7 separate regions of the Homo sapiens genome follow, and regions 2, 3, 4, 5, 6 and 7 are each reported to be linked to region 1. The links are microRNA targets in miRTarBase. Many come from high-throughput screens and were not tested one by one. Region 1 holds a microRNA gene; each other region holds the end of a gene's coding sequence.
The links. The annotated mature microRNA hsa-miR-1976 reads CCUCCUGCCCUCCUUGCUGU and lies in region 1 at 2,944-2,963, opposite strand. An mRNA with a match to its seed (bases 2 to 7 or 8) in the 3' UTR can be bound and repressed. Matches are read on the target gene's strand: a 7mer-m8 pairs with bases 2 to 8, a 7mer-A1 pairs with bases 2 to 7 and ends in A, and an 8mer does both.

Region 1 (4,614 bases):
CAGCCAAAGCTGATTCCCATGCCTGTCCCTGACCTATGGGCACTGTCACCTCTGCTCAGCCACCACACAGTGTGGCTGGGTCAGATTCTTTCTCCCTGACGTGATGGTAAGCCTGATGTGTTTGGTCTTCCCAGTGGGCTGGAAGGTGCCCCGGGCAGGGGTCCTGGCTTTTCTACTGTGGCCTTCACCACCCACACATCCCCACTCCCACTCTCTCACCAGACACAAAGAGACCCACAGAGCCCCATAGTGAGAGAGTCGGGCGGAGTGAGACAGGGACAAAGTCAGTCCCACGGAGCCAGAAACTCACCCGCCTGCCCACCCGCATACCTCGGCCTGTCAGTGTCCCTGACTATCTCTGCCCCCCAAGCTGCCACCGACTCCCGGCTTCCCTCCTGTACCAGCCCAAGACAGACAAAACAGATAAGGGACGCACCCTTGGGTGTGCGGGACGTGAACTCGGTGTCAAAGTAGAAGGTGTCATCAGGCTGAGCCACTGCTGGCTTGAAGGGTGGCTTGATCTCACGACGGTATAGCTTCTGCACAGTGGGGTGGGCACTCTGGTCACCATGGCATCCTCAACAGCCCACCAGGAGCCCCATGCAGGAGGAGGTGCTGGGCTTGGAACATAGGCCATATTGCCCAGCTCTCGGAATTGCTTGCCCTCAGGAGGCCAGCCCTTGTCTTCAAGGGCAGGCTGTGACCCTCTGCTCCTGCGTCTGGGGCCCTCGCTGGCAGAGGCTCCCCTCCCACCACCCTTCCTGTGGCCAAGATGGCTGAGCCCTGGCCAGAGCCCTGGTGTGGGTGGACACACTCACATTCCAGTCAATGGTGGAGTAGAAGACATGCCGCTTGATTTCCTCTGCCCCATCAGGGCCGGAGCCTGAAAGAGCCCAAATGAAGGGTCTGTCCCTGGCTGGCACAAGTCCCAGATATTACCCTGCCCACCAAGCAGCCTCACAGGGCTCTGGGACCAGCTGCTGGAGCAGAGGGGAAAATGGGCTCACTCAGCCTCAAATCTACCCAGCCATCACCCTAAGGCCTGTCACCTACTCAGCATTTTCCACTTTCTGGAGCTTCTGATGAAGAAATTCCAATGTACCAGTGGGAGGAGGAAGGCCCAGAGACTTTAGGCAACTTCTCCAAGGCCACACAGTTAGAACAGAAGCTGAGCTTGTTCTGAGACCTACAGAGAGCCCCACCTCATTCCAAGGCAAGCCTCATCTCTGTTCCTCTTATCCCATTGACCTTTTCAACCATAGGACAGGCTGTTACTCCATTCGACCCCAGGGGCCTTGACTGGACCTTACACAGCTGGTCATGGACCAGATGAACCCAGGAGCCAGGGAAGCCAGCACACACTGGACACCTACTACATGCCGGCATGTTCACACAACCTCATTTCATCAACAGAGCCCTGAAGCAAGCTTGGGATCATCATCTCCCATTGAGACGAGGAACCTGCGGTGCAGAGAGGTGAAGTCACCTGCCTGGGGTCACTTAGTTCATAAGTGGCCTCATTCGTTTAACAAATATTTATAGAGGGACTGTTTTGTGCCAGGCAGTGGGGACCTGACACAGAGCCGGGATTGGGACCTATGCCTTCTGACTCCTGAGCTCATGCTATTTCTCTTGTGCCAGCAGCCTTGGCGGAGAAGCTGTGTGGGGGCCTCTGTCCTTGTCCCCAGAGGGAGTAGGGATGACTCAGTTCCTGCCTTCCCCCTACACACAGGTCAACTCCCCCCTCCACAACACCACACATGGAGCCAGAAAGCAGGGTGGCCCGCGGCATTGTCTGCCCACACAAAGGACAACGGCCCCTTTCAGCCCAGATGTGGCCCTGTGGCCTAGGCTGCAGCTGTACCCGGCTCCCCATCGCCACATCCCCTCCCCTGAGCTGGGGCTGCTTACCGAGCCGGTTGGCAGGATTCCGCTTGAACAGGGCCCGCAAGAGGCTCTGGGCTTCAGTGCTCAGAAACTGGGGCATGCCTAGCTTCGCCCTGAAACAGCCCCCGGGACTCATCAAGGCTGAGCCCTGCCCCAGAGGCCCCATCTCCCCCGGCCCCTGTCCAGATCTAGTTCCCAGCTCAGTCTAGACAAGCCATCCACTAATTCACTTCCCAAAGGCTTCAGGGATCCTACCCACAGGCCCCCAGGGATGAAAGAGGGGCTCTGGAAGGTATAATGTTTAACCCAGAGGAGAGTCTCATTAGAGAGGGTAGCTGAGGCAGGGACAGGGTAATAATATTCTGACCCCCAAACTGGGGCTGGGGCTTGGAGGAGTCCATTGTTATCAGGGCAGGGCTGGGGCTTACTTCAGAATCAGTGTCATGGTCTCCTTCCGGTCCTTCCCCTGGAAGGGCAGGGAGCCCGTCAGCATCTCAAACTGCAGAGGACAAGGATCTATTCAGGCTCTGATCCCTGTCTCCGACACACCTCCCGCCTCCTCCCAGTCAGACCCCTCTGCCCCAGTCCCAGGATTCTTGCTGATACATCCAAGTCAGCCTGGAGCAAGAATTATGCCCGTCCCTCTTGCCTCTGCCAACCAGACCACCAGGAGCAGCGGTGGGGGCGCGAGGCTGGGGAGAAGGCCAGCACTGGGTTAGGCGCGTCCCAGGTGGGGTCAAGCCTGGGATCCTTCCAAGGAAGAAAACTGCAGGTGCATATAGGGTGAGGCCAGCTTGGCTGTGAGAGGAGACGGGGAGAGCCCTAGAAATGATCAACCCCCTCACTGTACAGATAGGGAGACTGAGGCCAGAGGCTTGGGCTGGATCCTTTACCCCTGTCTGGGCACTCACCATCAACACCCCATAGGACCACCAGTCCGCACTATGGGAGTGGCCCTGGCGGTTGACGACCTCAGGGGCCATGTACTCCACTGTCCCGCAGAAAGAATAGGCCTTCTTCTCGTGGTCAATGGCCTCTTTGCTCAGGCCAAAGTCTACAGCAAGGAGGGCAGGAGGACACACCTTAGGACCCCTGCCTTCCTTGCTGCCACCCTTTGCACACCCAACCCCCGTGCCCAGAGGCCAGAAGGCATCACCCCCATGACACTCAGGAGGAAGCTAAGGCCCAGAGAGGTCAGGTGACTTGCTCAACGTTACACAATGAGGGGCTGGGATTCCAGCTGAGGGTGTTCCAAGTCTGAGGCCTGAGTTTTTGACCACTTCCAAGTAACTGGCACGGCTTCTCGGGAAGAATGAGCCCCCAGCACTCAGCCGAGACCTATCATGACCTTGTCCTGTCCTCCCCTGGGTCCCGAGGGGGCAGGCGCCCTCCACTCACCAGTGAGTTTGATGTGGCCCTCCTCATCCAGAAGGATGCTGTAATAGAGAAATAGTGGTCAGGGCCCCTCAGCTGTGGCCGTGTGGGTGATGGTGTTACCACAGGGCTGTGGGAGTTGGGTTCAGCCCAGAGGAGGTGCTCCACCCAATTCTCTCTGATGACTGGGCGGGTGTTGCAGGGTGGTAGCAGTACCACGCAGGGGTGTTGCCTATCTTTTTTGCTAATCCTTGAAGCAACTGTGTGAGGCAAGTACTATTAGGGCCCCGTTTTGCTAATGGGAAAACTAAGGCTCAGGGCAGTTAAGTAGCTCTACAGTCATTGAGCTAGTAAGTCTAGCTAGTAGGTGGAGACAGGATTTGAATACAGGGCTGCCTAACACTAAAGCCAGATCTTATTCCAACTCACCACCTGCCCCTGGCTCCTTAGTTATCATTTGAGGGTAGTTAGATATTAGGGAAAATTCTATAGGGCTTTATCAAGGAAAGACCTCTAAAGGTGGCATCTCAAATGTCACACTAGATTAGCAAAAAAAGACGGGCAACATTACCTGCATGCAAAGTACCTGGCCCTTGGTAATGGTAGCATTAGTGACTGGGCAGCTGGCACTACCACCCACCCCACTCACCCATCCCTCAGATTGCCCAAGAGAGGGAGACGTTTCTGGAGAAAGCCATGCCCACCCACCTCAGGATGGCCCTGTCCTAGAAGAGGCCTCCCCTGGGGAGGCTGGGGTGGGGCTGGAGGCTTCACTCACTTCTCAGGCTTGAGGTCTCTGTAAATGATACCCAGGCTGTGCAGGTGATCCAGGCCCAGAGCCAGCTCAGCCAGGTAAAACTTCACATCCTCCTCCGTGAACATCACCTGCAAAAGACAGGAGGGGCCTTCAGCAGGGACCTCCTCTTCCTTAAGAGCTGGGGCACTGGGCAGTCAGCAGCTTCCTGGTCCTGAAGAGCCACCCTGGGAGGACCCTTGGAAACCCCAGGCCATATAGCCTTCTCATCATACAAAGGATTTGAAGTATGAAATGACTAATACGCAAGCCACTCATTGTGGCACCATTCAGAAATAGAAGGGGTGGGAAACAGGCCTAGGGTCCAAGAGTAGAAGGCTGGAATCAGCCCTCTCCCCTGCATAATGGAGTGCTTTGCAGCCATGAACTGGAACAAGGAGTTTCTCCGTGTTCTGACATGGAGTGAGCTCCAAGATATACTATCTTGAAAAAAGCAAGGTACAGAACAGTGTATACAGAATAGTACTTTTTACATAAGGAAATGGGGGTAGGAATGAACATATATCGGATTTGTTTGCAAAAGAAACATGGGAAAGTTA
Region 2 (4,000 bases), not on the chromosome of region 1:
TCATGTTGCATTATTAGTAATACAATGGCAGTTAGGGCCTCTACTATGGAAATGAGAAAATTTCAAACTACATTCTTTGGGGGAGGAGAGTAATAAAGCTGCATGGTTTAAAAATTTACCTAGTAGTGGATTTGATAGGGTTTATATAATTTCTACAAGAAAACATAAGCCAGGAAAAGGACAAATGCTTGACATGCAAAATCTGGTTAGACATATACTAAACTAAGCCTGTGTGTCCCCCTGTAGAGAGGGGCCCAGCGTGACTTTTTTTTTTTTTTTTTTTTTTTTTTTTTTGAGGTGGAGTCTCACTGTCGCCCAGGCTAGAGTGCAGTGGTGTGATCTTGGCTCACTGCAACCTCTGCCTCCCGGGTTCAAGTGATTCTCCTGCCTCAGCCTCCTAAGTAGCTGGGAGTATAGGCGCGTGCCACCACGCCCGGCTAATTTTTGTATTTTTAGTAGAGATGGGGTTTCACCATGTTGGTCAGGCTGGGACTTGGGTTCTTAATAAAATACCACTCTCTGTGATGGCTACATCTAAGCCTTTGAAGGTGAGCTGTGGACATACCACATGTGGACAGCATGAAATGCTTCTTCTGACACTGAGAGTCACTTGAAAAACTTGAATTCAAAGTCAAGCAGGCCAAATCTCACACCTCATGAATCCCAGGAGGTACACAATGAAGAAGAGCTTCTGCCTTAAAGGAACAAGGCTGTCTGGGAGGCCTGAGAGTCCATTAAAAGACACCGCATTAACTACAACAAAAAGAAGAGCAGCACCACCCACCAGTGGTGCCCCAGACACACCTCTCCTCCAAGCTCTGGGCTGCTCCTCTTGGAGTCTACACTTAGACCCTGGGGGTGGGGGTGGGCACACAAATGGACAGAGTGGTCTAAATGCAGGTCTCCTGGGGTTCTGCGAAATCTAGCCAGAAGCATCTCCATCTCGGTGTCCATTTCGATCCAACTAAGCTTCCAGTAAAGACACTGCAGCAATGTAAACATGCAACCTAAGCTAGCATGAGGTTCTAGATAGTAAGCCTGAACTAGGAATAAGGCAACTGAACTGTGACTTTCGGGCCAGGGTCATCCAGCTGCAATTATCCAGGCTTGGCCTGGCTTCTCTAGGGATTCATTCTGGCCTGAACTTCCTGGTAATCATGACATGAACTTCTGGCTTCTGAATTTTAAGTAAATACTTTGAATATATAAATTTGGGAGGTGAAACAGGTTTACCCTTTTCAAGTCTCCATGACTTGGGCACTTAAGTTTACTTTCACACTAAGGAAGCCTTATCATAGATGCTCTTTACTGTCTATCATATCCATTCCTAGCATTAAAGGTGAAAATTAGTATGATCACAGACTCTCTTTAGGATATTCTCTCTTAACTCTCTCATAATATTACATACTCAAAAGCATAATTTCGATTCAAGAATCCCTTGATTCGTCTGTTCACCGAAGCCCACTGAGACTACACTTGAGGTGCAATCACACCTACTGGTGCGTCCACTTTATGGAAGTCACGTGGCTCCCTGGACACCATCTCCCGGTGTCAGCAACACTCTGTATCCCACTATAGCTTTCTCGTTCCCAGATGATGCATAAGGAATTCATTTTTGGTTGCTTAATTTACATACTATCTGTGAAAACAAACTATTCACAATTGAGCATGAAAACTTATAAGCTTCCCTGAATTCTGCACAATTCACACATAATTAGGTAGACAGCAATAGAAGACACTAAAATGAGAAGCAGAAACCCTGTCCAGGAAGCATGTTTAGATCAACAAAAGCCAATCATTCTTTATGCTAAAAACTAAGACCAAACTAAAACAAGTATGTAATTCACAAGTAATTTTCTAAAATTTTAGCTAGAAAAAAATAATCTATGGACTTATGATTGAGTTACCATTAAAGCTTAAATGATTGTTCCTAAGGAACCATCATATCTGTCAGCATTATTCACAGCTAATCCTTATGCTAGCTGGTTGAGCCAATTGGGTTTTTACCCCATCATTAAATAGTGCTCAGAAAAGTAAGCAGTGCATCTTAATTGGTTAAATACTACAAAATGACCTGTATCATAGAAACGAAGACACTTTCATTCAAAGAATATCTTAAAATTACTATTGCTGAAATAAATCAAAATCTACATTAAAATATTACTAAACACCATTACATGCCATAAAAGAATAAATAGAAATCATGGCAGATCAATAGCAGCATAACAAAGCTTCTTTACATATTTTCACACTTTGGGCCGGGAAAGTACTCACAGCCTAGGAATACATTGGTAGAGTTCGGAATCACATTTTCTTTTAACTCCATAATTCTACAACAAAATAAGGGCAGTGTGAATAACAGCTCCCTTTTCTGCATAGCTTTAAAACTATTCTCAGTACACTCAAGGAAAGGAACCAGAATGGCTTTGTCAGATTGGTCCACTGGTCCTTTTGTCAAAGTGTTAAGGAAAACAATCAACAATGACAGAAAAGGAAAATAAGGCTGTGCTTCACACACAAACTTAGCATTTTCAGAACCAATGGAGAGTTTAACCTAAAATGAAGATTTGATAGGATGTGGGCATTCCCAGCCCCAGCCTTTCCTTCAAAGGTATGACATGCCTGTGTCCACACCACCAGAGCCTGACAGTGCCCTATTCAAATGGTAATGCTGCACTGGGGGCCTGCTGCAGGGCAGGACTGGGGCACTTAAAAACAAAATGCTATTAAGAAATTTCACAACTTTTAAGGCCCAAATGGGGCATTCATATAAAATATACTTCACTTGAGGAAATAATTCCTAATTTGCCGGCTTAAATTCTGGTCCTAAAAACTAGAAGCTACTTTGCAGAGCTGCCTTCTACTCTGTTCAAAACTTGACTTGTCAGCCCAAAGCCCGTTTCTATGGGGTAGGCTGGGGGAAGCGGTGGGGGCCGGGCTGAACTTCTGCTGTGAGGCTGGTGACTACTCCTCTGTAAGTCCTTGAAAGTGAAAGCAAGCTGAGAATCTGACTCCTTATTCCACAGCCTTGCTCCTAGCTGATGAAAACACCCACATAACTTAACACAATGATCGCTCTCTTTTTTTTTTTTTTTTTTTTTTTTTTTGTCAAAACAAGGATCTGCTGGTGATGCTTCACAGTGAAACCTCCATTATCACTGAGAATGTCACTTGGAAAACATTCTTAAGAAATGAGTCTCTTTCTCATAGGCTCAATTTCAGGATTCTCAAACTCAATGTTCTGCTCAGAAGTTTCCATGATGAAGCCTATTTGTCTCTGAGGCTGGGGCTCTGCCTTTAGACTTATTCTGCTCCAGTCATAGGTTGTGGTTGTCTTTGTTCTTGGTCAGAACCTGCAAGTAGACTTCATGAAGTGTACTGAGGAAGCTGGAATCATTCTAGAAGAGATGGTAAAGGTTAAGGATACGAATGCCACATTTACCTCATCAGATTTTACTTCCTTGGTAACAGCTTAGGAAAAAAATTGTATAAATGATTTGTATAACTGATAATCCCACCACCCAGAGACAATCATGATTAATATTTTGAGTTCATGCAGATATTTCTCCACCAGGACTGTATGCTTAAAAAAAGAGAAACAGTACTCCCAGCTAGTCTGTTTTTGTTTTTTTTTTGCCTGCCTTGGCCTCCCATAGTGCTGGGATTACAGGTGTGAGCCACTTTGCCTGGCCTCCAGCTAGTCTTTTGAATTTACTTTATGAACTGATTCTGTAAGAGGAATTTATAAAATTTCTTTCATTAAATAATGAAAAATCAAAGATAAAATTGGTATCCTACATACCTTTATTAGATGTATTAATGTATCCTGGAGCTGAGACTTGCTGAGAATAATGGAAGGCTTTCTCTGACTTTCTGGCGTTCCAATAGTTAGAGGAGAAGGGGAGCTGGCTTTCCTCTCAAGGTCCGAAGATCTTGTAACTGTCTGCTGGAAAACACTTGGGGCCAGCAGGACTGAAGACACTGCAGTGGTCGTTGCAGT
Region 3 (4,614 bases), not on the chromosome of region 1:
GCAATCAGTCATCCCAGGACTGTGGACATGCACTCCACCAAGAACCAACAATCCTTTTGGGATGCTGGAACCTTAGTTGTCACAGCCCAACTCACTTTCCAGCACATCCCCTCCCAGAGGGGAGGAAAGTTTGCAAGGACACAAAAGATTTGAAGTTTTTGCTTAAACAGATGTTTTTGAGAATTTTGTAAGAATAAAAAATCACTGATAACATCTAAGGGATAACTATGTACCAGGCTAAGCACTCAGTCCTCTCACCAACTGCACAAGGTAGGTGTCCTCAACCCCAGTTAGCTTGAGCCTGTCCCAGGTTTCCAACAATTGCAGTGGTGAGGCCAGGGTTAATTCCTGGTCCACAGGACTCAAGAGCCCTCTACTCTTAACCGCTCTATTATGCTCTCTCATTCACTGAGATAACTGCAAGCAGATCTTAATGCAGAAGCGGGGATGCCAGTCATTACTCTTACCCATCACTCTGGCAAATCCGAGGAACATCACGGGTCAAGAAGCAGACCTGGGGCTCTGGCAACCTCAAGAAATGGGGAATACACAAGGTGCAGCCCCAAAGACTGATGATGCAAAATGACACGGATGAAGAGTCCATTTAACACTACAAAGGAAAATTGGTGATCTGGAGTTAAATAGGCAAAATTCTGTTTTGTTTTTTTTTTTTTTTTGCTCCATTATTTATAGAACACCAAAAAAAGAGGTACATTCAGCTATTCATTTCTGTAAGTGTTTTTAGGAAGAGTGGCAAAAGGGTCTAGCCAGGTCTGCTAACACCACTTTCCTACTAGCTTCCTGTTTTCAAAACTAATGGCTGCCTCCTCCCTCAAACTGCTCAAGTCTTAAGCCCAGAAGCCTCAGTATCAATGTCTGCACTTCATGTGTGACGTGGCACTACCTTTTTGTGCTTCCATAGCGCACATACACTAACTCAGCCCACCAAAAATGCTAGGATATGGAGAAATTGGACACCATGAAGTATGAACTAGTCCCCTGCACCTATTTCCTGGATCCTTGCTTAAACTTGGGCAGGTGTGAAAGAAAAAATACTTGGTTCACATTCAAGAGACCCAGATTCAAGTCCTGATTTCATCAGGCAGCAGTTAAGTGATATGAAATAATTTTCGTGTTCTAGGCAGTTTTCTGTAATCATGGGGATTAATCAGTGGTTCTCAAACTGTGGTGAGCAGAACCTGGAGAGCTTGCTAAAAATTCTCCTAGACACAAGTCTGCCTCATTGAGCCCAGGAATCTGCATTTCAGTGCACACACCTGAGGATTCTGATGCTGGTCCGCAAGGGAGAGGCAGGGCAGCTGCTACAGCAGTGGGCCAGTCACCTCAAGGCTCCTGCTGAGACGTCTTCCCCACTGGCTGACGGTGCATAATCCCAGGAGACCCAGTTGCAAGGACTGTCCCCCAGGATCTGGACCACAGCGTGCACCCGAGCTTCACATTCCTGGACACCAAGAGAGGCAAACGCAAGTTCCCCTAAAGCCATGGCCCCTCTCCTTTCTCCAAGGTCTGCAGTCCTCCTGGGCTTTGGCAGGTAACATTTCTGGGTGGTTCTGACTACTAGGCTACAAATCTCCCTCTGGTACTACTGTGAACTGCTAGGGAAAATGATCAGTTACAACAATTCTTCCTGGTTCCAAGAAGATGAGGTAGTGCCTACTCTGATATGTGAATCAGTCAATCAATGAACCATAATATAATTTCCCTGAAGAGAACAAATTTTTGTTGAAAAATGGTGTTTATCTATAAGATTCAAACACAAAAAGAGATATTTCAGTGGGGGTGGTAGAGGGGCAGAATAAATGGTTTATAAAGAAAAGTGGTTTATAAAGAAAAGCAAACTTCTTCGCAGTTATCCTGGGTTCCAACCTCCACTTCACTGATAACCAGCCACAGTCAATGAGCACATTACTTAACCGCTCTGCGCCTCCGCTTATTCACCTGGAACACAAAGACATTAGTAGTATTTTAGAAAAAGATAGATTAAATGATAAAAGTTCCGAGAATAATAGCTGGGACATAGAAGGAGGAGTTATAAAGGAGTTATGAAGGGAGTTAGAAATTCATTTCATTTATTTATCAGTGAGGGCTGATTAGAGAATTCCAGAAAAATGGCAAAAAATATAAGATATCGGGAGAAAAGGGAAAAATAATTCCCAAGATTCCTGCTCTCAGAATTGACGAGTTTTCCGCTACACATTAACTTGGGCAGCTCAGAAACTTCTGAGCTTCCTAGATTTATTTTTCAGATCTCGAATCAATTAATTCTCAGACATTACAAACTTAACTGTTACTATTTCTGTATTTAACATAAATTTTGTCATACTTCCAGCTTAAATAACATCATTGCTTATTTTATTGCTGTTAGCAATTTAACAGCACTTAAAATGATATTTTTCTTTCAGTTTTTCTGAAAACATTATCCTAAATGAATATATATGTATACATGTATATGACATATATGTATATACAAACATATATATATTAATACTTCACCTTTTATTTCTCTTACACACAATTTTCTCACTTTCAAAAGTGTTGGGAAAGTTGCTGAAAGTGATTAGTACTTGATTTTGGTTTAAGTGCGGAATTCAAAACTACAGGTTAAGTAAGATTATGTAATAGAGTATAGAGCTTGTTCCTCCTGCATTTTTTTTTTTTTTTTTTTTTTTTGAGACAGAGTCTTGCTTTGTCACCCACGCTGGAATGCAGTGGCATGATCTCAGCTCACTGCAACCTCCCTGCCTCCCAGGTTGAAGAGATTCTCGTGCCTCAGCCACTGGAGTAGCTGAGATTATAGACGCTCAAGACCAGGAATGGCTAATTTTTGTATTTTTAGGAGAGATGGGATTTCACCAAGTTGCCCAAGCTGGTCTCAAACTCCTGGCCTCAAGTGATCCACCTACCTCGGTCTCCCAAAGAGCTGAAAGTATAAGCATGAGCCACCAAGCCCGGCCATCTTCTGCATTTTTCAGTCTTACTCTATTCTTCATGATGTTTTGGGCTGAGCTAAATTTGAACCCAGGCTTATACAGCCCCAACTCTATTTCTTTCTTCTTTATTACACAGCCTTGCAGAAGACAACGGTGAAGATTATACATGTAATGATTTAAGAGTCATCTAGGAAGAAGATAACATCACTAAAACTTGCCTAAGAAAGCTACTTACAAATCATGTACATTTACTTCCACACAGCCCTTTACAAATAATGCACACTTACTTCTACATAGCCCTTTTCCAGTGTGGATGCTCTGGATAACAGAAAGTTTTGAAAATAAGGATTTGCACTGACAGAGCCAAATTTTACATCAGTTAAAATTTAAAAAAAGAGAGAAACAACCAGGACACAGTGTCTTATTTCAACTCCTAAAATTAATATTCATGAGACTGATAAAAGTCTGTAAGCAGCAATTATTAGTCAATTTTTAGTTTCTAAAAATATTGTTTTATTAAATAACTGTTAAATAGGATTTTTACAAAATAAATGGCATAGAAAAGGGTAAAAATGTTTATGTTCCCAGAACTTTCTATGCCTTTTCAACAGAAAGGAAAAGGCACAGAAAGTTGTCAGCTGCTATTACTTCTGGAGAGCTGCCACAACTGGACGGTGTTGGAGTATCACCAGTTCTCTCTCTCATGGGAAAGAAGGGGATCAACACTTTGTAGAGAGGTAGCACGTCTTCAGGTAACAGCTGCTACACACAGCTGGCTTCAACTTTAGCTCCCCTGTTGATGACTGTCAGCTTCAAGGTGTAGCATCCCATGGCACTCAGGAAGAATTAAGGAGCTGCACGAGGTTTTCAAGACATTTCAAATAATAGGCATTTAGAGGGTTTGCTTCTGAGTTTGGGAAAGCTGAGATAGAAAAATAAGAGTACAGAAATACTAGTTTATGAAACTTGGTACTATACTTAGGAGGCACACACATAAACAAATACATATGAACAGGATTTATATATAATTTAAAGCTCTAAGTTCTTGATGTAATAGCATTCCAGAATATTTTGCATTTTTTAAAAAATAAACAAGTTACAAAATCAATATTTTTTTAAATTAACAGCTTACCCAGAGTATTTTTTAAAAAGTACCCCCCATAATGGATACCATTAACTATAATTCCAAATGAATGCCATTAATCTTTTTTTATGTACCATCCTTCCTAAAGCATAATCTTTAACTTCACTAGCTCCAGAAATTCATGGTCGCAGCTAAAACAAACTAAAACCTCCCCTGCTTAAAAAAAAAAATCAGACTATAAAAACACAAATAACCAACAGATATATTACAGTACAGGAAAGACACAATTCAGTGTTTTAGCATAAAAAATGTTCAGAGAATAACGCTCACTGAAATTTGGTGTCACTAAAAATGAATAATGTGCTTTGAAAAGAAAACCGTCTCTAGTATTGTGACCACATCACAGGGAAACGTGGATATAAGGGTAACAGGATCAATTCTTGGAAGACTGTCCTCCAGCTCCCTGATGTTAGATCCAGGTTTTCTGCTCACAGTTAATTCTAATTGGGCCAGTTCTTATCACTAAGAACATACTTCAGCACAGTGGTCACTGTTGGCAAAGAAAATTTAGTACAAAAA
Region 4 (4,614 bases), not on the chromosome of region 1:
GCTTTTAATTGTGGATCAAGCCTTGTTCAACATGAAAGAATCCATACAGGGGAGAAACCCTATGAATGTAAAGAATGTGGGAAGGCTTTTAGTCGTGGCTATCACCTTACTCAACATCAGAAAATTCATACCGGTGAGAAACCTTTCAAATGTAAGGAATGTGGGAAGGCCTTCAGTTGGGGTTCAAGCCTAGTTAAGCATGAGAGAGTCCATACTAATGAGAAGTCTTATGAATGTAAAGACTGTGGGAAGGCCTTTGGTAGTGGCTATCAACTTAGTGTTCATCAGAGATTTCATACTGGTGAGAAGCTTTATCAACGTAAGGAATTCGGGAAGACCTTTACTTGTGGCTCAAAACTTGTTCATGAGAGAACTCATAGTAATGATAAACCCTACAAATATAACGAATGTGGGGAAGCCTTTCTGTGGACAACTTACTCAAATGAGAAAATTGATACTGATGAAACCTTATGATTGAAAGTTGTAAAAGAATATTTTGTGTGTGTGTATAGACAACTTATCATAATAAGAACTCTTACTCTTGAGAAACCTTGTGAATGTAAGGGTTGTGCAAAAGCCATTCATTTCTGTTTATGGGCAATTATCTTGCTATCCAGCAATTCATACTAGTGAGAAATATTTTGAATATAATTAATATGAAAAGGCCTTTAGACTTCTGTACAGTCTTATTGGATATCAATTTATACTGATGTAAAATCATTTAAATGTAAGGAATGTGTGAAGATCTTCATTCATGACATAAGGTCTGATTAACATCAAATAATTGGTATTTGTTAAAAAGAGTTTAAATAGGAGGAATGTGGGAAGGACCTAAACTTAATTCAGTTCTTGCTGCACATCAGAGAATTCATACTGCTGTGTAATCCTATGCACATAAGGAATTTGGGAAGGCTTATAGACACAGTAAATATCTTAGAGTACATCAGAGAATTCATCCAAATGAGAAATCATTTGAATTAGAATTATAGGAAGGCCTTTAGACAAATGCTACCCAAATTATTATCCAGAGACTGGTGCAGTCATAAAATTGTCATCTGTCAATTGTGAGATAAACGTGGAAAGTGAGTAAATATTTGGAACTTTTATAGCAATTTGACATTTCCATAACATTCTGTTTTACAAAATTATCAGTCCATAAATGATTGAGAATTGAAAACAAAGTTTGTTCTTTCCCAGAAATAATTTGAGACAAGACTCACACTTTTCAAGACATGAGACAAGTGACAATTTAAATAAGAAATTCTTCACTTGCACCTCTCTGATTAGAATAGCAGAATATTCATACTATAGCAAGATTTGGCAAATGAGGGAATCAAAATTTTCTAATGCCTGTAACAGCATAAGATAATTTATACCAGATATGTTAAATGTGCAGAAGCCTTCCAACACTATTCAGTCTTTGTTAAACTTCAGTAAGTTCATCCTAGAGAGTAACTCTGTTAATGTAACAAATGTAGGAAAACCCTTATCCATGGCAAATACCATACTGTCATCACCATTTCACCTCCATACTACCTGTAGGATGGTGAGCAAAATGCTTATCTCTTCTGGACATGATGTTTCAAATGCTGATGGTAACTAATAATGCTGTTACAGAGATTAGATGGATTTAGTATGCATCATATCCTTGGAAGAGTATCTGGTATGTAGCCTATGCTTAATACATATTAGCTATTGTTCATATTGTCTTTATTATTAGTATTACTACTGGTGAATTCTTAGGAGAGGCACAACCGTTTTGAGGAATGAATTCAGAAAAGCTTCCCATAACCACTCATCCATTTGAATTTCAGATAGTTCATTCTGGATAAGATCTAGTACAGTATAAAGAATTTGAGGGGATTTTAATTCAGAGTTTATCCCTTAAGCTGAGCTAAAAAAATGAGACTTGAAAAAATCCAGACTTTTGAAGAGTTTAGGAAAGCTGTTTTATAGAATGTCACACATTAGTTTCATTCCTCATGGTGAAATTTGATATGGGCCTCTCCTTCACATTTCTCGTAACATGAAGTTGGAAATAGAGGCTTAAACATTTTTTACCAGAACACTTCATAGATGGTGATGTGTACTTCATCTTGCAATACCTCAGAAGCAGATAGTATCCATTTCCCCCAGTATCACCAGTGCCAAGTTTGATCACTTATGGTAACTACTGGAGTTGTCTGTTATAAAGATCCATTATATACCTAATAGGATTGGTCAGCCTTGATCAATGATCTTTGGAAATGTGTGATCATATGGTATGTATTTTACTTTTTTTTTTTTTTGGGACAGGATCTCTCTTTCTGTCACCAAGGCTGGAGTGCAGTGGTGTGATTTCGGCTCACTGCAACCTGCACCTCTCGGGTTCAAGTGATTCTCGTGCCTCAGCCTCCCAAGTAGCTGGATACACAGGTGTGCACCACCATACTGGCTAATTCTTGTATTTTTAGTAGAGATGGGGTTTTGCCATGTTGGTCCAGGCTGATCTTGAACTCCTGCACCTGCCTCAGCCTCCCAAAGTGTTGGGATTACAGGTGTGAGACACTGCGCCTGGCTATATTTTACTATTTGGAAATCACAATGCATCTTAAAATTGATGGCTTCTTGCAACCACTTTCAACCAGGTGCCTGTCATGATTTAGTGCTAGCATCAAGGCAGGTTAGTTATGAAGAAATAGAGTGTGTGTTTATATACTCACACAGTTAGAAATCGACCCTTTTAAAAATTATTTCTTTTTGAAAATAATGTCAGTTCCATCAGAACTAATGCATTGATAACTAAATGTCTGTGGTTCCTTGTCATAGGTCTACACCTGACCTCTCTATTTTGTGCACATAGGGGATTCGTAATATCACTGTTCAGTCAGTCATTCACCATCTAGTGATCATCATTCTACATGATTGCACTTTTTCAAAGGCATAAAAAGCCAACAGTTGCACTCTTAATAATCAACTGTAACACAAAGCAGAGTACTTTGGGAGTTTTAACAGGATATATTATTGGTAACTGGCTATTATGCCACTCCCTCTGGGTGCCACATTTGCCTGTTAACCAAGAAATGTAGACATGGTGCCTTATCCCAACATTTCTGAAATTATATCTCAAGGAATCACCAGTGCTTACTAGTACTTGACAATGAAGGAGGATTTTACAGTTAAAGAAGCTTATAAAGTAGCATCTACTAAATCCCCTCCTAAGGAACAAGCAAAAGCACCTCACCAGCTTATCAAAAGACTAAAGAGAAGTGAAAAAAAAAAAAAGACGGCCGGGCGCGGTGGCTCATGCCTGTAATCCCAGAACTTTGGGAAGCCGAGGCGGGCGGATCACGAGGTCAGGAGATCAAGACCATCCTGGCTAACACGGTGAAACCCCGTCTCTACTAAAAATAGAAAAAATTAGCCGGGCGTGGTGGCGGGCGCCTGTGGTCCCAGCTACTCGGGGAGGCTGAGGCAGGAGAATGGCGTGAACCCGGGAGGCAGAGCTTGCAGTGAGCCGAGATTGCGCCACTGCACTCCAGCCTGGGCGACAGAGCGAGACTCCGTCTCAAAAAAATAAAAATAAAAAAAGACTAAGGAGTATTCTAGTGAAGAAAATGGTTGAACTTTGTTTAAACTGGTGTATGGCAAACTTCACTGTTGAAATACTTATTCCCATGACCTATTATCTTTGTAGGTGGGTGAAATTGCATTGGGAACTGCTGCTATAACCAAAAGAGAATTTCAGTCACCATGTCTGGTTGTTAGCTATGATGGAATGGCAGCATCATGGTCTCAGTTATGAGTGAAAATCTTTGTTGTAGCTAAGTAGTGGTGCCTCCTGAGTTTTATTAAATGCCGTTTCACTATCTTTTTCTGCACTTCTATAGTATTTAATTTGTTCATGTGATAATTTATTCTGATAGATTCACTGACTTTTTCCCATTCCTGGATATTCCAGGTTAGTCATAGTATCCTTCTGATGCATTGCTTGATTTCATTTTGCCATTTTATTTAGTATTTTTGCATCTCATGAGTGAGATTATATAATAGTTTTCTTTTTTATTGTATTTTTGTTTGTTTTGGTATTGCAATAGCCTGTTTTTTAATATTGTATGATCCTATTAGGTTATTTTGTTTGATCCTTGACCACTTTTCTAGTTCCATCTGTTGCATTTTTTTTTGTCTTTTAATTCCTACTTCAGACATAACAGATTTATTGAGTGTTAGCACAGTTCCTTTAAGGAGCCTTCATAGCCATGTAGTACTAGCCAAGATCCGCATAAAAGACGCATCCCAGCATGGCCCCTAAAATCCTTCATTATGTGCTCTTAAGAATAATGTGTTGGGAAGTCAGAACTTCCTTATAGGGCTGTTATGATCATACTTGTACATGTCTTTTGGAGCACACGTGTACACATTTCTTTCTGTATATACTGGGAGTGGAATTGCTGGGGTGTGGTCATGGATACACATCTGTTCAACTTTTTAGTAAGTTTAAATTCTTCTGAACAGTTTTCCAAACAAATGAACCGTCTTATACTCTCACCAGCAGTATATCAATGTTCTGCTTTCTCCACATCTTTGAAAATACTTGACATCATCAGTTTAAAGAATATTTTCATTACTCTCATA
Region 5 (4,614 bases), not on the chromosome of region 1:
TTTCTCCCATGTTGATCAGGCTGGTCTCGAACTCCTGACCTCAGGTGATCTGCCCGCCTTGGCCCCCCAAAGTGCTGGGATTACAGGCAAGAGCCACGGCCCCTGGCCCTTTCTCTTCTTATAAAACCACCAGTTCTCCCAGGATAACCCATTAGTCTATCAACCCATAAATTGATTAATTCATTCCTGAGGATAGAGCCCTCATGATTCAATCACCTCTTAAAGGTCGCACCTCTCAGTACTACCACACTGTAGATTAAGCTTCAATGTGACTTTTGGAGGAGATGGTCAAACCATAGCAAGCAGTTTGGGAACCATAGTCTGTACAGAAACAGTGATTGTATTAATATGAAGTATGAGACACCAGCAAACTAGAGTGGAATGGATGAGCGCCTTGTAAAGAGACATCCATGAATGTTTCAGTAACTATGGCTATGTGAGATGAGGGTATACAGAAACTCTGAGGACCTACAGACGTGTGTATCTCCTGTAGGCAAAGTCATTGTCAGAGCAAGTAATCCAAAGGTGTTATGGATTCTTGTGTCTCTGGCGTTATAAAACGTATGTTGAATTTTAATTGCCATTTTAACAGTGTGGAGAAATGGGACCTTTAAGAGGTGATTAGGTCATGATGGCTCTGCCCTTATAAAGGAATCAATGCCTTTATCATAAGAGTGGGTTTGTTAACCCGAGAGTGACGTTTTTATAAAATCAGCTGTCTCTGTCTTTCATGCTCACTTGCCCTTCTGTCATATTATGACAGAGTAACAAGGCCCTCACCAGATGCCAAGCAGATACCAGTGCCATACCCTTGGACTTCCCAGCCTCCAGAACTGTATGAAACAAACTACTTTATAAATTACGCAATCTGTGGTGTTTTGCTATAGTAGTGGAAGACAGACACAGACATAAAGCCTGTTAATTCAAACCACTACTGCACAGGTAGGAGCCTCATGACTGAATGAAGGGAGATTCTATACTTCTGAGATAAGTCTTTTTTTTTTTTAAACCTAAACATAATTCCTGGTGACTCAGGTGGACATAACCTTCCTTGTCTCCAGTTCTTCTTCCCCGAGATTCTGAATTTCCAACAACATTGCTTCCAGTTTTTGATACTATAAAATCAGAGTTGACCCACGTAAGACATGAGGAGAGGCTAATGATGGAATCAACACAGCTTTGCCAGAGGTTATAAAAGAGGATTGAGAAATCCAGATTTTATTTGGAATTTTTCTTTTCTAACAGCTTTATTGAGGTATTAGTGACATTCAGTTGCACATTGTTAAAGTGTAAAATATATAAAAACAATCACCAAAGTCATGATAATAAACATATCCATTGCCTCAATAGTTTGTTTGTACCCTTTTCTATTCTCTCTCGCTCACAGTCCTACCCAAATTTTTATGCTCAGGTAGCCACTGGTTTACTTTATGTCACTATATACATCTTTCCTTCCTTCCTTCCTCCCTCCCTCCTGCTCTTTTCTTTTTCCTTTTTTCTTTTCTTTTTTCTTTGTTTCTTTCCCTCCCTCCTTCTCTTCTCCTCTCCTCTCCTCCTCTCCTCCTCCTCTCCTCTCCTCTCTTCTCTTCTTTCTCTTTCTCAGAATTTCACTCTTGTTGCCCAGGCTGGAGTGCAATGGCACGATCTCAGCTCACCGCAACCTCCACCTTCTGGGTTCAAGCGATTCTCCTGCCTCAGCCTCCTGAGTAGCTAGGATTACAGGCATGCGCCACCACGCCTGGCTAATTTTGTATTTTTAGTAGAGACGGGGGTTTCTCCATGTTGGCCAGGCTGGTCTCGAACGCCTGACCTCAAGTGATCCACCTGCCTTGGCCTCCCAAAGTGTTGGGATTACAGGCGTGAGCCACCATGCCCGGCCTATAAATTTTCTAGTATCTTATACAAATGAAATCCTACATTACATTCATATGGAGCATTTTTTGATATTTATACATGTTAAGCGTATTCATTTTTTGTTGATGAAGAGTATTGCATTGAATATACCACAATTTATTAATCTATTAATAAATATTTTGATTGTTTCTAGTGTTGGACTAAAAAACTAACAAAGACCCATGAACATTCATATACAAGTGTTTATATGAATATATTTAGCAGAATTGCATTTGTTATACCTCCTTGTCCATGATGGTTATGGTGTATTTTAAAGATTAACCATTTTCATAGATGTGTTGTGGTCAGTGTGGTTTTTAAATTTGCATTTCTCTAATAATTAATGATGCTGAATAAGTTTTTATATGCTTATTTGTTATCTGTATATTTGGCCAAATTTCTAAATCTTTTCCCTTTTTTTAAAAAAAAATCTTATTTTTCTATTTTAATAGAGTTTTAATTTTAGAACATTTTAAGATGTACAGAGAAATTGCAAATATAGTACAGAGATATCTCATTTACAAGCACACCTAGTTGTTACTAATATATAGTCATATATTAGTATACAGCATTATTTACAATTAGTGAAACAGTTTTGATACATTATTAAACTAAAGTACATCTTTGATTGAGATTTCCTCAGTTTTTACCAAAATACATGTTCTGTTCCAGAATTCCACCTAGGATACCACATTGCATTTATTTTATTATTTTTTATTCTTTTATTTATTTTTTTTCATGTGTCTCTAAATGTAACCACATTACAGTTAGTACTCACATTTCTTTAGGCTTGTCTTGCTTATGAGAATACTCATTTATTTTGATATTGATTTTTAATTTTTTTTTTTTTAGATAGTCTTGCTCTATTGTCCAGGCTGGAGTGCAGAAGCACTTTCTTTCTTTCTTTTTTTTTTTTTTTTTTGAGACGGCGTCTTGCCCTGTCTCCCAGGCTGGAGTGCAGTGGTGGGATCTCGACTCACTGCAACCTCTGCCTACTGGGTTCAAGGATTCTCCTGCCTCAGTCTCCTGAGTAGCTGGGATTACAGGCACCTGCCACCATGTCTGGCTAATTTTTGTATTTTTAATAGAGATGGGGTTTCACCATGTTGGCCAGGCTGGTCTTGAACTCCTGACTTCAAGTGATCTGCCCACCTCAGCCTCTCAAAGTGCTGGGGTTACCGGCGTGACCCACGGTGCCCAGCCACTTTTAGTTATTTTTATTTTTATTTTGAGTCTCCCTCCGTCACCCAAGCTGGTAAGTAATTCTCGTGCTTCACCCTCTGGAGTAGCTGGGACTACAGGTGTGTGCCACATGGTTGGCTAATTTTTGTATTTGAGACAGGGTTTTTGCCATGTTGGCCAGGCTGGTCTCGAACTCCTGGCCTCAAGTCATCTTGAGTGGATCACTTGAGGCATTTGGGAGTGCCTCAGCCTCCCAAAACGGTGGGATTACAGGCGTGAGCCACTGTGCCCGGCCTGCACATGTCTTTCTTACATGTGGACTCTCCAGGGGATTTATGCTGTTCAAGAAGCACCTGAATCAAACTGTGCTTTAAAAATATTTTTAAAACATTCCATGATTCTTCATAGTACAAAAATGAGAAATCTCCCCTAAATCTCTAAAGAATTCCCTTTTTAAACTTTTTGATTTCCTGAACTTGTCTGAAGGACTTAACACAGTTATATAGAGTGTTCTTTGTGTAACAGTATCCATGACTTTCATTTTTAGCTCTGGTATTAGATCTTCCTGGACAAGAGCATTACTGGCCATGTGTATGTTGCTATCACAAATAACTAGTAGTTAATATTTCCTAAATCTTAGCAAGAGTTATGATAAATAGCTGAATTCCATGAAGAGAAAAGACTCATGGCATGACAACCAGATTAGGAAAGAGTGTTTTCCTTGTCCTGCAGGCAAAACAGAACTGAGAGATATGAGTATCACTCATGATGAGGACAAAAGGGCTGCGTGCTGGGAAACATGAGGCGACCAACACAGAGTTGGTCACTATCCACTGGCCTGGGTTTGCAACTACAGTTGTCCAAATTGTCAGAAAACTATGGACTGAATAGAAAACAAAAAAGGAGCTCACCAGGACCATGATGGTGTGTGTGGCTCTGGCTTCCTGGGAAGGTCTGCAGGAGAGTCTGTTGCTGTGATTGTGTTGGACTTGCTGCTTGTGTCTGTAGAGGAAGAAGACCATGGAGCCACTGGCCCAGACCATGAAGCCCAAACTCATAAAATCAGGGGAAAAATATAAGACTGCATGTAATGAGCTAAATCTCTTTGATGCTTTGTAAGAACAGTATCCATAATTGTTTTTTGCACTACTGTTTTTGCTATTCAGTGGGCCATTCACTAATAGAAGAACAGATGCATTCATCAAGACATGGGGGGCCCAGCAGAGGAGACAACAGAAGTCAATAAACCTTGGGGATCTAATCTTGATCTCCATCCACCTGCATATACTGGGGTTGAGCTTAATGGCTTGGAATCCATTGAGAAGGCAGATGGTGCTGAGGGAAACTCTTGTGCCCACCCTGTGATAATAAAAGACAAACTTACATCCAGTGTCATTCAGCAAATATTTCAATCCAAAAGCTGCCATTGTCTGAGGTATCCCTTTAAAGAAAAGGACCATGGAGTTAGCCAAGGCCAGTTGGCTGAGAATCAAGTCCGTGGGTCTCAGCTTGTGTCCAGTGAACAAAATTAAGTTATAA
Region 6 (4,614 bases), not on the chromosome of region 1:
ACGCCTGTAATCCCAGCACTTTGGGAGGCCGAGGCGGGCGGATCACCTGAGGTTGGGAGTTCAAGACCAGCCTGACCAACATGGCGAAACCCTGTCTCTACTAAAAATACAAAAATTAGCCGGGTGTGGTGGCACATGCCTATAATCCCAGCTACTAGGGAGGCTGAGGCAGGAGAACTGCCTGAACCCGGGAGCCGGAGGTTTGCAGTGAGCTGAGACTGCGCCATTGCATTCCAGCCCAGGCAACAGTGTGAGACTCTGTCTCAAAAAAAAAAAAAAAAAAAAAGCCGTCAAAGAGGCAAATAAAATACTGCAAGTCAGACATAATCATAAGATTTCTGCTGAAACCTTTTAAATGTCCTGAAATCCTATTTTTAACAATATTTTGATTAAAGCAAATCATCTTGATTACAATAGTGCATCTTAAATCACTGGGAGTACAAGTGTAATTGCTGCTTTATCTCTGAAACAATGTTTCTCTAGTTTTTTTTTCAAAAATTACCAATTAAGGCTGTGGCTCATGCCTGTAATCCCAACACTTTGGGAGGTCAAGGCGTGCGGATCATTTGAGATCAGGAGCTTGAGACCAGCCTGGCCAACACGGTGAAACCCCATCTCTGCTAAAAATACAAAAAAATTAGCTGGGCATGGTGGCGGTTGCCTGTAATCCCAGCTACTCTGGAGGCTGAGGTGGGAGAATCGCTTGAACTTGGGAGGCGGAGGTTGCCGTGAGCTGAGATCAAGCCACTGCACTCCAGCCTGGGTGACAGAGCAAGATTCTGTCTCCAAGAAAAAAAAACAAACAAAAAAAGAAATGCCCGATTTACCAAGAATATTTCTCATCCCCCTAAAAACTTGCCCCCCCTCCCTTTTTTGAAACAGAGTCTCTGTCACCCAGGCTGAAGTGCAGTGGCATGATCATGGCTTACTGCAGCCTGGATCTCCTGGGCTCAAGCGATCCTCCTGCCTCAGCCTTCCAAGTAGCTAGGACCACAGGTGTGGGCTACCACACCTGGCTCATTTGTATTTTTGTAGAGGCAGGGGTCTCCCTATGTTGCCCAGGCTGGTCTTGAACTCCTGAGCTCAAGCAATCTGCCTGCCTCAGCCTCCCAAAGTGCTGGGATTACAGGTGTGAACCACCATGCCCAGCCCTTGGGTCTTTTTAATTTTGGTAGTATAGAAATAACTGGAACCTCAGAGGAGACACCTGTAATGCCAACTAGAAAAACACTGCTGCAAAGGACATCTAGTGGAAGGGTAAAAAGTAAAAAGCAGTAGAAACCTCAGCTTCCCTGAGAGCATATTAGACCAGTGCTTCCCAAACTGTAAATAAAGTCCATTCTCATCCCCTGGGCGTTCTTAGTAACATCAACTGGTCTGGGGCAGGCATTTCCAACATACTGCCAGGGCATGGCCAAGCTACACTGGTTCCTGAGCCACACTCTTTGAGTAGTGAGGCATAATCTCCATAGTGTGATGTTCATATTTTAGCATTTTATTAAGTTTTACAGGTTTTCATGCTTGGTATATCTTGTTGGCTAACCCCTAGGCATGTAATAAATACTTAGAAATTTTCCACCAAACATGGTGATAAATTATTTTGCTCTTTAAAGGAATAACACTTCAGTTACCTATATAATTTACTAAAGCAGAACATTTTACTCCTTGATGAATCCATAAAAATACAGCACAACTGTATTCTTACAGTATGTACAAAATCTTATTTTATCCTTTTATTTTCACAGGCAATGCATAATTAGGTTGTTTTTAAATGAGATATTATGTAAAATTGATAGCAATAACTGTCACACACCTCTATTGCCATTGTAGGGTTTTTCTCTTTCTCTGATACTTTTTTGTGTGTGTTTATTCAACATTTATCAATAAGAATTTTAGTGCATTCACTAAGAGCCAAGCACCGACACATCCTGATATGCTTCCATCTAGGACTTTTAGCTGCTTAAAAACATTTAACATGCTTCTTTTCCTCCAGCAAACTCTTTTAAAAAAAAAATGAAACTCTTTCCTTCAATGAGATTATTTCAGAAGTTGCCAGTCATCTTGGAACCCAAACTCAGTAATAAGCAACTGTGGCACCACAAGTGGAAACCTTTTGATGATGGGCCCAGTGGTTTCATGGAATACACGGGTTTACTGCTATAACCCAAGAGACTCCAGTTGAGACAGTCTGGCTCAGACACATGCATCCACAACTATGAACAGGAGTAATGCCTGGACTCATACCCAGTTCTCTTGTTGACTATATCTTTGCCAAAGGACTACTGACTAGTTTTAATGGGGCCAAGAACACAAATATGTATATTTTTCTTATAAAGAAACATTTTAATTCTATTCCCCTTTATGTAATAAAGGCTTCTTGAAAAACATGAAAGGTTTGGGGAGCAAATGCTTAGGAAGTTTTCTGACATTAAACCACCTTGTTCGTTCGTTCATTCATTCATTCATTCATTCATTCATTTTTGAGACGGAGTCTCTCACTCTGTCACCCAGGCTGGAGTGCAGTGGCGTGATCTCAGCTCACTGCAACCTCCATCTCCCAGGTTCAAGCAATTCTCCTGCCTCAGCCTCCTCACCTTGTTCTTTAAAAATAATCATATTCTATGAATATGTGTCTGCTGGTATAGCAGAAAGAGAAGGATTAATCAATAAAGTCCTAGAAGGTGAACTCGGAGGAACACAATTTTATGAAGACTCACAGTTTAAGACAAAGCTAAAACATTTATATGTGGTGATGATTAAAACAAGAACAACAGACTTTAAGGGGAATGGGCTTCTGAAGGTTATTGTAATACAAAAAGTATGGAAGGTCCCACTTTGTATAAAAACTGTGATGTAAAATTTCTGGTATAGTTTAAAAAGAAAAGAAAGAAAAGGCCCCAGAGAAAAACAAATATTTTCGCACAGCTTTTTTTTTTTTTTTTTTTTGAGACTGAATCTCACTCTATCACCCAGGCTGGAGTGCAGTGGCGCGATCTCAGCTCGCTGCAACCTCTGCCTCCTGGGTTCAAAAGCCTCCCTAGTAGCTGGGATTACAGGTGCCTGCCACCATGCCCGGCTAATTTTTGTATTTTTAGTAGAGACAGGGTTTCACTATGTTGGCAAGGCTGGTCTCGAACTCCTGACCTCCGGTGATCTGCCCACCTCGGCCTCCCAAAGTGCTGGGATTACAGGCCTGAGCCACCACGCATGGCCTGCACAGTATTTCTTAATGTAAAATTGTGTGATGCTTATATCATTAAAATCAACTTATTTATTTTATCTTTTGGCTTTCAGGTGGAATTTTAGAAAATACCTGGCAAGTGAATAGTTCTGAAAGTGCTTCCTCTTAAGTTCTTTGGTATAATTTGGTCATTTTGATAGTAATCAACCCATTAAGTAGGTACTTTAACACCCTCATATCAATTAAAATGGAATGTGGAGTACAGATATTTAGAAAACCATGACTGAGGAATAAATTATATTTTTGACCTCATGGAAAACAGAACTCTAAAATTTTACTTATGTTTCTGTGGCAAAGATAGCCATACTGCCTATGAAGACATCTCTAACTTTATATTAAAGAAATGTTCTATAAAACATCTCTTTCTGATTATTAGAAGTAACTGTTCTATATACTTTTTTAAAGTAGAAGAGGCAAGTTTCAACTTGAAAAAAGAATAATTTTGAATTTCATAAAATTATACTCTTTCATGCCTTCTGATTCAGTAATTGTCAACATCTAGAATTTAATGTCAGTTTGCAGACTGTTAAGGATTATTCTTCTATTTCAGGAACAGCTAATTTTCCTCTTGAAGCATTTTCTCTATTTCCTTATCCCAGTTTTCATCTCGTTTTTCAGATTCTGTCACCACTTCATATTCTTGAAGTTCCTGCTGCAGTTCTTTTTCCCAATCTGCAGAATCCTCTAAAAGAAACAAAGGAGAAGAAAAAGATTCTCTCTGAATTCATAATGCTGGTGTTCACAATTCGGTCCATCTCAATTACCTACGTAAAGTCCTAGCTGCTGTAATTTTTAGTATCTCAGGCTTCACTACTATGTGTGCTCAGAAAAACTCAGTAAATTTTAACAGTGACCAAGGATAAACACAATTAGAAAGATAAATCTGTTAATGTAGAAGCAAAGGTATCAGATGTCATCAATATATTTTGGGTGTTATTTTGCTTTCCCTATGCCTCTGCATTTCCTTTTATTTAAATGGGTAAATGATAATTAATACTTGGTTGCAAGTTAATTTTTACCACTACCAATGATGATGATGGTAGCAAAAGCAGCTAATGTTTATTGAGCACTTACTGGGCTGGGCACTGGCCCAACTGCTTTCTATGTATCACGCTTTTCACCCTTGGAACAGTCCATGGACAAGGTATTACTATTTGCCACATCTTATAGATAGGGAAATGGAGACTTAGGAGAGGTTAAGCAACTTGCCCAAGATCACACCGTTTGACAGCGACAGATATAAGGATGGAACCACATCTGCAGGCTCCACAGTCTATGCTTAACCACTATACAAAGAGCTGTCTCCTTAAGAGTGGAGACAGACACCGGGGTCTGAAGTCAGCCTGGACTCTCTCATGGTGTTCTGACTGGAG
Region 7 (4,614 bases), not on the chromosome of region 1:
AGGAGCCAGTTAACCTTGACCTTCTCTTTCTAGTCTTCAGCCAGGGTTGACGAGCCCATGACCATGTTCCTCTGGACACTTTGTACTAGCCCCTCTGTCCTCCGTCCTATTGTGCTTTCTTTTGAGCTGGAAAGGAAACCGTCGAAGATCGTCCCATTAGGTAAGGTTGGAGACGGGGGGATCATGATGATAGGGGGATCATGGTGATAGAGATAGATGGGTCCCTGGGAGGAAGAGGGATGAGGGACTGATGGGGAATTTCTGGAGTTAGGGAGGAGAATGGTGGGTGGGAACTAAAAGCCACATGCCTGAGACGTGTGTTTTTCCTCTCTTCCCACCTCAGAACCTCCTCGGCTACAGCGATTCCAGTGTGGAGAGCTCCCTTTCCTGACTCACGTGAACCCCAGGCTCCGATTGTCCTGCCTTTCTATCCGAGAGTCAGAGTACTCCAGCTCTCTGGGGATCCTTGCTTCCTCCTGTTAACTGAACTGCAAGGATGGCCTGAGAGTCCTTCCTTGCTGAAAACCTGAAGGCCTAGGTCCTGGCTCCTCTCCCTACTTGTTCTGTGATTGAACCAAGGACTCCAGATTCACAAACTGCTACTCCACTATAATTTCCCTTCTTTGGTGTTCTGGTGCCAGCCTGCCTTGGCAAAATTGTGGCAACAGGAAATCATGGCCCTATTAATATGTCCTCTGATTGGGACAAGGCACCTGCATTCACAGGCGGCCCTGAGCACCTGGGTTCTGACTTTGTCGCAGGAGCTGAGGGAACAAAAGACTTGCTCGCTGTGGGGTGATGGTGACAGGCCTATTGACCTGCAATGAAGCCCTCTGGTGTCATTTCTCACTGGTACTCATCTCTGGGGTCCCAGGCCTCCTGACTCCTAGTTGTCCACCTCCTAGGAACTCCTAGTCGTTCATCATCATTTCAGCCCTTTGCCGCCAGGGCCAAAGGTGGAAAGTGATTTGGAAGAGAAGAGCTTTTCGTCCAGCAGAAGAAATGGTACCAAAATCAGTCTGTAAAGGAAGTAAATTGGGGAGTTGGCGGCAAGGCAGAGAGCATAGCTATGATGGTCTCAGTCAGTAAGGCTGGGCCCTGCAGGAAGTCAAATATGAATGCCTAGAGGTGTTCACAAGCACAAAGAAGGTGTAGGGGGAGGCAAGTGCCAGGCACAAGCAGGGGCAGGTGAGGACTCTGGGTGACTGTGCTATAGGGCCCCAGGCTACGGTTAGCCCTGTAGGTTTCCCAAGGGCCTGGCCTAAGGCAGATCCTTGATCGATATACCTTGAGACCAGAAGGTGCTCCGAAATCACAACCGTACAATTAGGGGATCTAGGAACAATTCTTTGGAGATACCAATGCCTTTGGCTGGTGTTGCTGCATTTCTTTACTGGGGACTGATAGATGGAGAGGTGGAAAGATGAGCTGAGGCACATCTTTCAGAGCTACTGGGAGGCCATTTCTTCCTGGCTGTTAGGATTTGTTCGTGTTTGGGAGACCTTTAGAGCGTGGTTAAACCCATATGTTGGGATTTATGCTGCTTTTATGGTAGCAATACCCTATATTAAGATTTGAAGTAGACCCGGAAAGTTAGTGGCCGGTTAGCTCAGTTGGTTAGAGCGTGGTGCTAATAACGCCAAGGTCGCGGGTTCGAACCCCGTACGGGCCAGTGGGTGGCTTTTTTTTGTGTGTGTTTTGTTTTCTGACCCTCTGCTGTTATCCGGAAGTTTCTACCCGGAGCCAGTTGCCTTCTGGTAACAGAATTATATTGCACCTACTGCTTCCTATTCCCTGAATCACTAGCGCTCCCGAAGGCTTGGAGGGAGGAGTCTCTGGGCACCCGGGTGAAAGGAAGGTTCACGTGCAACCGCCGCGTCTTTTTTTCCCTGAAGCGCTTTCATGGAGGCAGATGTTTGTCAGTCAAGGGAAGTAAGAAAGGCATTGGATGAAAACGAAGCCCTAAGCCTCGTAGTCGTGGCCGAGTGGTTAAGGCGATGGACTAGAAATCCATTGGGGTCTCCCCGCGCAGGTTCGAATCCTGCCGACTACGTCATATTTTTTTCTTCAGCATACTGACCATATTTCTCTCCAGGATGGGATGATCCAGTCGGCACCCTCCAAACCTCTCATCTAGGAACTCTAGAATCGAGAATTTGATTTAGAGTCTATGATTTTGGTTTGAAATCTATGATTAACGTCTTTGGACATTGAAGGAAATCCGAGGAATGGACAAGTGATGCAAGAGCCAGTTGAGTTACCAAATTAGTTCTAGAAAGATCTGAAAAAGCTCGGTCCGGGTTCCTAGCTCTATATTCTTGTAGATGAATTTCAGGAACCTTTATGGCAGCTTCGGCGCCGTGGCTTAGTTGGTTAAAGCGCCTGTCTAGTAAACAGGAGATCCTGGGTTCGAATCCCAGCGGTGCCTTTATTCAATTGAAACAGCGTGATTTTGCGGCTAAATCCACATCCTTTCATGTATTGTTTTTATATCAGAACGCGTAAGAGTTTCTGTTCTGCACTCATAGCACCCACATTTCCTGCAGAGTCAAGCTGCCACTCCCATGAGATCGCCACTCTAAAAGGTGGTTCTCTAACTTAGGGGCAGAAATGTTGCATAGGCCTAAGGGTCCTTTGCTTAACTGATGCCACACCCCACTGGTGCAGGTGGACTGGGTCAGGCGGCCGCCCCACCCTCGATGGAAGGGGCTGCCCACCTTCCAGGCCTCTTTCTCCACCCTAGGACGTCCCCTAGAACCTGAGCCACTTTGTTTTGTTTGGCTCTTCATTATAGTTCTTTGGGTTTGGTGGCTCATAATGTTATATATATAGTATATAATATAAAAATATATATTTAAATATACAGTATTTAAAATTTGGCACAGCTTCCAGATGCGGTCCTCTAACTGGTCTTTCACTTGCAGTTACCTCCATCCCTCTCCACCAGCGGGATGTCAGGGTAAGGAGTAAGCAGGGATCCGGCTGGCCTGGCCTGGCCTGGCACCAGGTTTCGTGCAGCAGGGTGCAGAAGGGCTGAGGCCATGTGAACAGAGTCCAAGAAAGCATCATTCGGGAGTCGCTAGGGATCCTGGTGTGGAAGGGCAGGGCACTTTTCTGGAGCACTGAAGCTAGGCTGGTTAAGGAAGAAATAAATGCCAGAGATAAGGCAAGAAATAGGATCTGTGAGCTCTTGGCAGGACCTAAACCTCCTTGGAAGATAGGCAGAAAGCTCTCGACACCATTCCATGGCCCACGAACCAATGTAAGATGAGCAAATGGCTTGAAGGAATTGCTACCTCCAGGTCAAGCCAGGGATGCAGCACTGCCGAGACCACGTTTGTGCCAAGCACTGGGCTGGACCCTGTGCAGAACCAAATGAACAAGGCACGTTCCCCTTTCAGCACTAACGGCACTGTAAGAACAGGGAGAAGTGGAATCTAATCTGGCCTGAGGGTAGAGGGTGATCAGCTAAGTCTGAAACACCATGTAGAAACTTGCCATGTATGGCCGGGCGCGGTGGCTCACGCCTGTAATCCCAGCGCTTTGGGAGGCCAAGGTGGGCGGATCACGAGGTCAGGAGTTCCAGACCAGCAGCCTGGCCAACATAGTGAAACCTGGTAACATAGTGAAACCTCGTCTCTACTAAAAATGCAAAAAATTAGCCAGGCGTGGTGGCAGGCGCCTGCAGTCCTAGCTACTTGGGAGGCTGAGGCAAGAGAATCGCTTCAACCTTGGAGGGGGGAGGAGGTGTTGTCAGCCGAGATCGCGCCACTGCATCCCAGCCTGGGCAACAAGAGTGAAACTCCGTCTCAAAAAAATGAAATAAAATAAACGAATGATCAGCTGTTTGTTAGTTCTTGGTTATTAAAAGTGGGGTCTATGTACGCACTTTTCTGAGGAAAAAATAAAGTGTGGGGTATGTGGATGGGATTATGTGTGAACTCCCTGGATTGTATACATGTTTAGGAAGAGGGCCATAGCTTTTTTTTTTTTTTTTTTTTTTTGAGACGGAGGGAGTCTCATTCTGTCACCCAGGCTGGAGTGCAATGGCACAATATTGACTCACTGCAACCTCCGCTTCCCGGGTTCAAGCAATTCTCCTGCCTCAGTCTCCCGAGTAGCTGGGATTACAGGCGCCCGCCACCACGCCTGGCTAATTTTTGTATATTTAGTAGAGACGGGGTTTCACCATTTTGGTCAGGCTGGTCTTGAACTCCTGACCTTGTGATCCACCCACCTCAGCCTCCCAAAGTGCTGGGATTACAGGTGTGAGCCACTGTGCCCGGTGAAGAGGGACATAGCTTTCATAAGGGTCATAAAGGATTTAGGCCTCCCCTTCTGCAGCGTTTAAGTGCCTGAGGCCAGGGAAGAGGTGACTGGATTATTTTGCAGAGAAAGCTGGGGCCCAAGGGGAGGGAGACAGGAATTGGAAAAGGGTAGGAATGGGGGAGGAGATGCCAGATCAGCCCTGAGAACCTCTTTACCCATCTCAAAGACTTGGGACACTAATGGGAAAGGCTGGGCTAACTTCTGCTGCCCTTCCCCACTGTCTGTCCAGGGGAACCTGGGAAAGACAAATAGGAGCTGAATCCTTCACTGAAAGCCCCGTCATCG

Region 2: miRTarBase lists DCP1A as a target of hsa-miR-1976. Seed matches in the 3' UTR shown: 7mer-A1 at 902-908 and 8mer at 381-388.
Region 3: the mRNA of RTTN is a reported target of hsa-miR-1976. The part of its 3' UTR that is shown has no 7-base or 8-base seed match.
Region 4: the mRNA of ZNF283 is a reported target of hsa-miR-1976. Seed matches in the 3' UTR shown: 7mer-A1 at 3,337-3,343 and 8mer at 3,454-3,461.
Region 5: miRTarBase lists VN1R1 as a target of hsa-miR-1976. The part of its 3' UTR that is shown has no 7-base or 8-base seed match.
Region 6: the mRNA of SYAP1 is a reported target of hsa-miR-1976. Seed matches in the 3' UTR shown: 8mer at 2,573-2,580, 7mer-m8 at 961-967 and 7mer-A1 at 941-947.
Region 7: miRTarBase lists CTC1 as a target of hsa-miR-1976. Seed matches in the 3' UTR shown: 7mer-m8 at 758-764 and 7mer-A1 at 2,395-2,401.

Annotation. Positions count from the first base shown.
Region 1 is chr1:26,552,923-26,557,536 of GRCh38, reverse strand. MIR1976 (microRNA 1976) reads right to left here and starts at 2,995; the gene lies at 2,944-2,995. RPS6KA1 (ribosomal protein S6 kinase A1) reads right to left here. Exons shown (of 22, transcript NM_002953.4): 7 at 4,040-4,146; 8 at 3,286-3,323; 9 at 2,799-2,941; 10 at 2,316-2,386; 11 at 1,912-2,000; 12 at 819-883; 13 at 437-539.
Region 2 is chr3:53,284,263-53,288,262 of GRCh38, forward strand. It overlaps DCP1A (decapping mRNA 1A), which reads right to left. Exons shown (of 10, transcript NM_018403.7): 9 at 3,803-4,000; 10 at 1-3,398. The coding sequence ends at 3,318. The region is part of intron 1 of LOC107986087 (a long non-coding RNA gene); the gene reads left to right. Among named protein-coding and RNA genes, the nearest start is that of TKT, 30 kb to the left of the region's middle.
Region 3 is chr18:70,000,364-70,004,977 of GRCh38, forward strand. It overlaps RTTN (rotatin), which reads right to left. Exons shown (of 49, transcript NM_173630.4): 49 at 2,668-3,873. The coding sequence ends at 3,788. Among named protein-coding and RNA genes, the nearest start is that of CD226, 55 kb to the left of the region's middle.
Region 4 is chr19:43,848,168-43,852,781 of GRCh38, forward strand. It overlaps ZNF283 (zinc finger protein 283), which reads left to right. Exons shown (of 7, transcript NM_181845.2): 7 at 1-3,850. The coding sequence ends at 474. Among named protein-coding and RNA genes, the nearest start is that of ZNF283, 23 kb to the left of the region's middle.
Region 5 is chr19:57,451,667-57,456,280 of GRCh38, forward strand. It overlaps VN1R1 (vomeronasal 1 receptor 1), which reads right to left. Exons shown (of 1, transcript NM_020633.4): 1 at 3,124-4,614. The coding sequence ends at 3,759. Among named protein-coding and RNA genes, the nearest start is that of VN1R1, 3.2 kb to the right of the region's middle.
Region 6 is chrX:16,759,543-16,764,156 of GRCh38, reverse strand. SYAP1 (synapse associated protein 1) reads right to left here. Exons shown (of 9, transcript NM_032796.4): 9 at 1-3,925. The coding sequence ends at 3,798. Among named protein-coding and RNA genes, the nearest start is that of TXLNG, 25 kb to the left of the region's middle.
Region 7 is chr17:8,224,049-8,228,662 of GRCh38, reverse strand. CTC1 (CST telomere replication complex component 1) reads left to right here. Exons shown (of 23, transcript NM_025099.6): 22 at 34-160; 23 at 344-3,848. The coding sequence ends at 483. It overlaps TRT-AGT1-2 (tRNA-Thr (anticodon AGT) 1-2), which reads left to right and starts at 2,355; the gene lies at 2,355-2,428. It overlaps TRS-AGA2-6 (tRNA-Ser (anticodon AGA) 2-6), which reads left to right and starts at 1,972; the gene lies at 1,972-2,053. It overlaps TRI-AAT4-1 (tRNA-Ile (anticodon AAT) 4-1), which reads left to right and starts at 1,599; the gene lies at 1,599-1,672.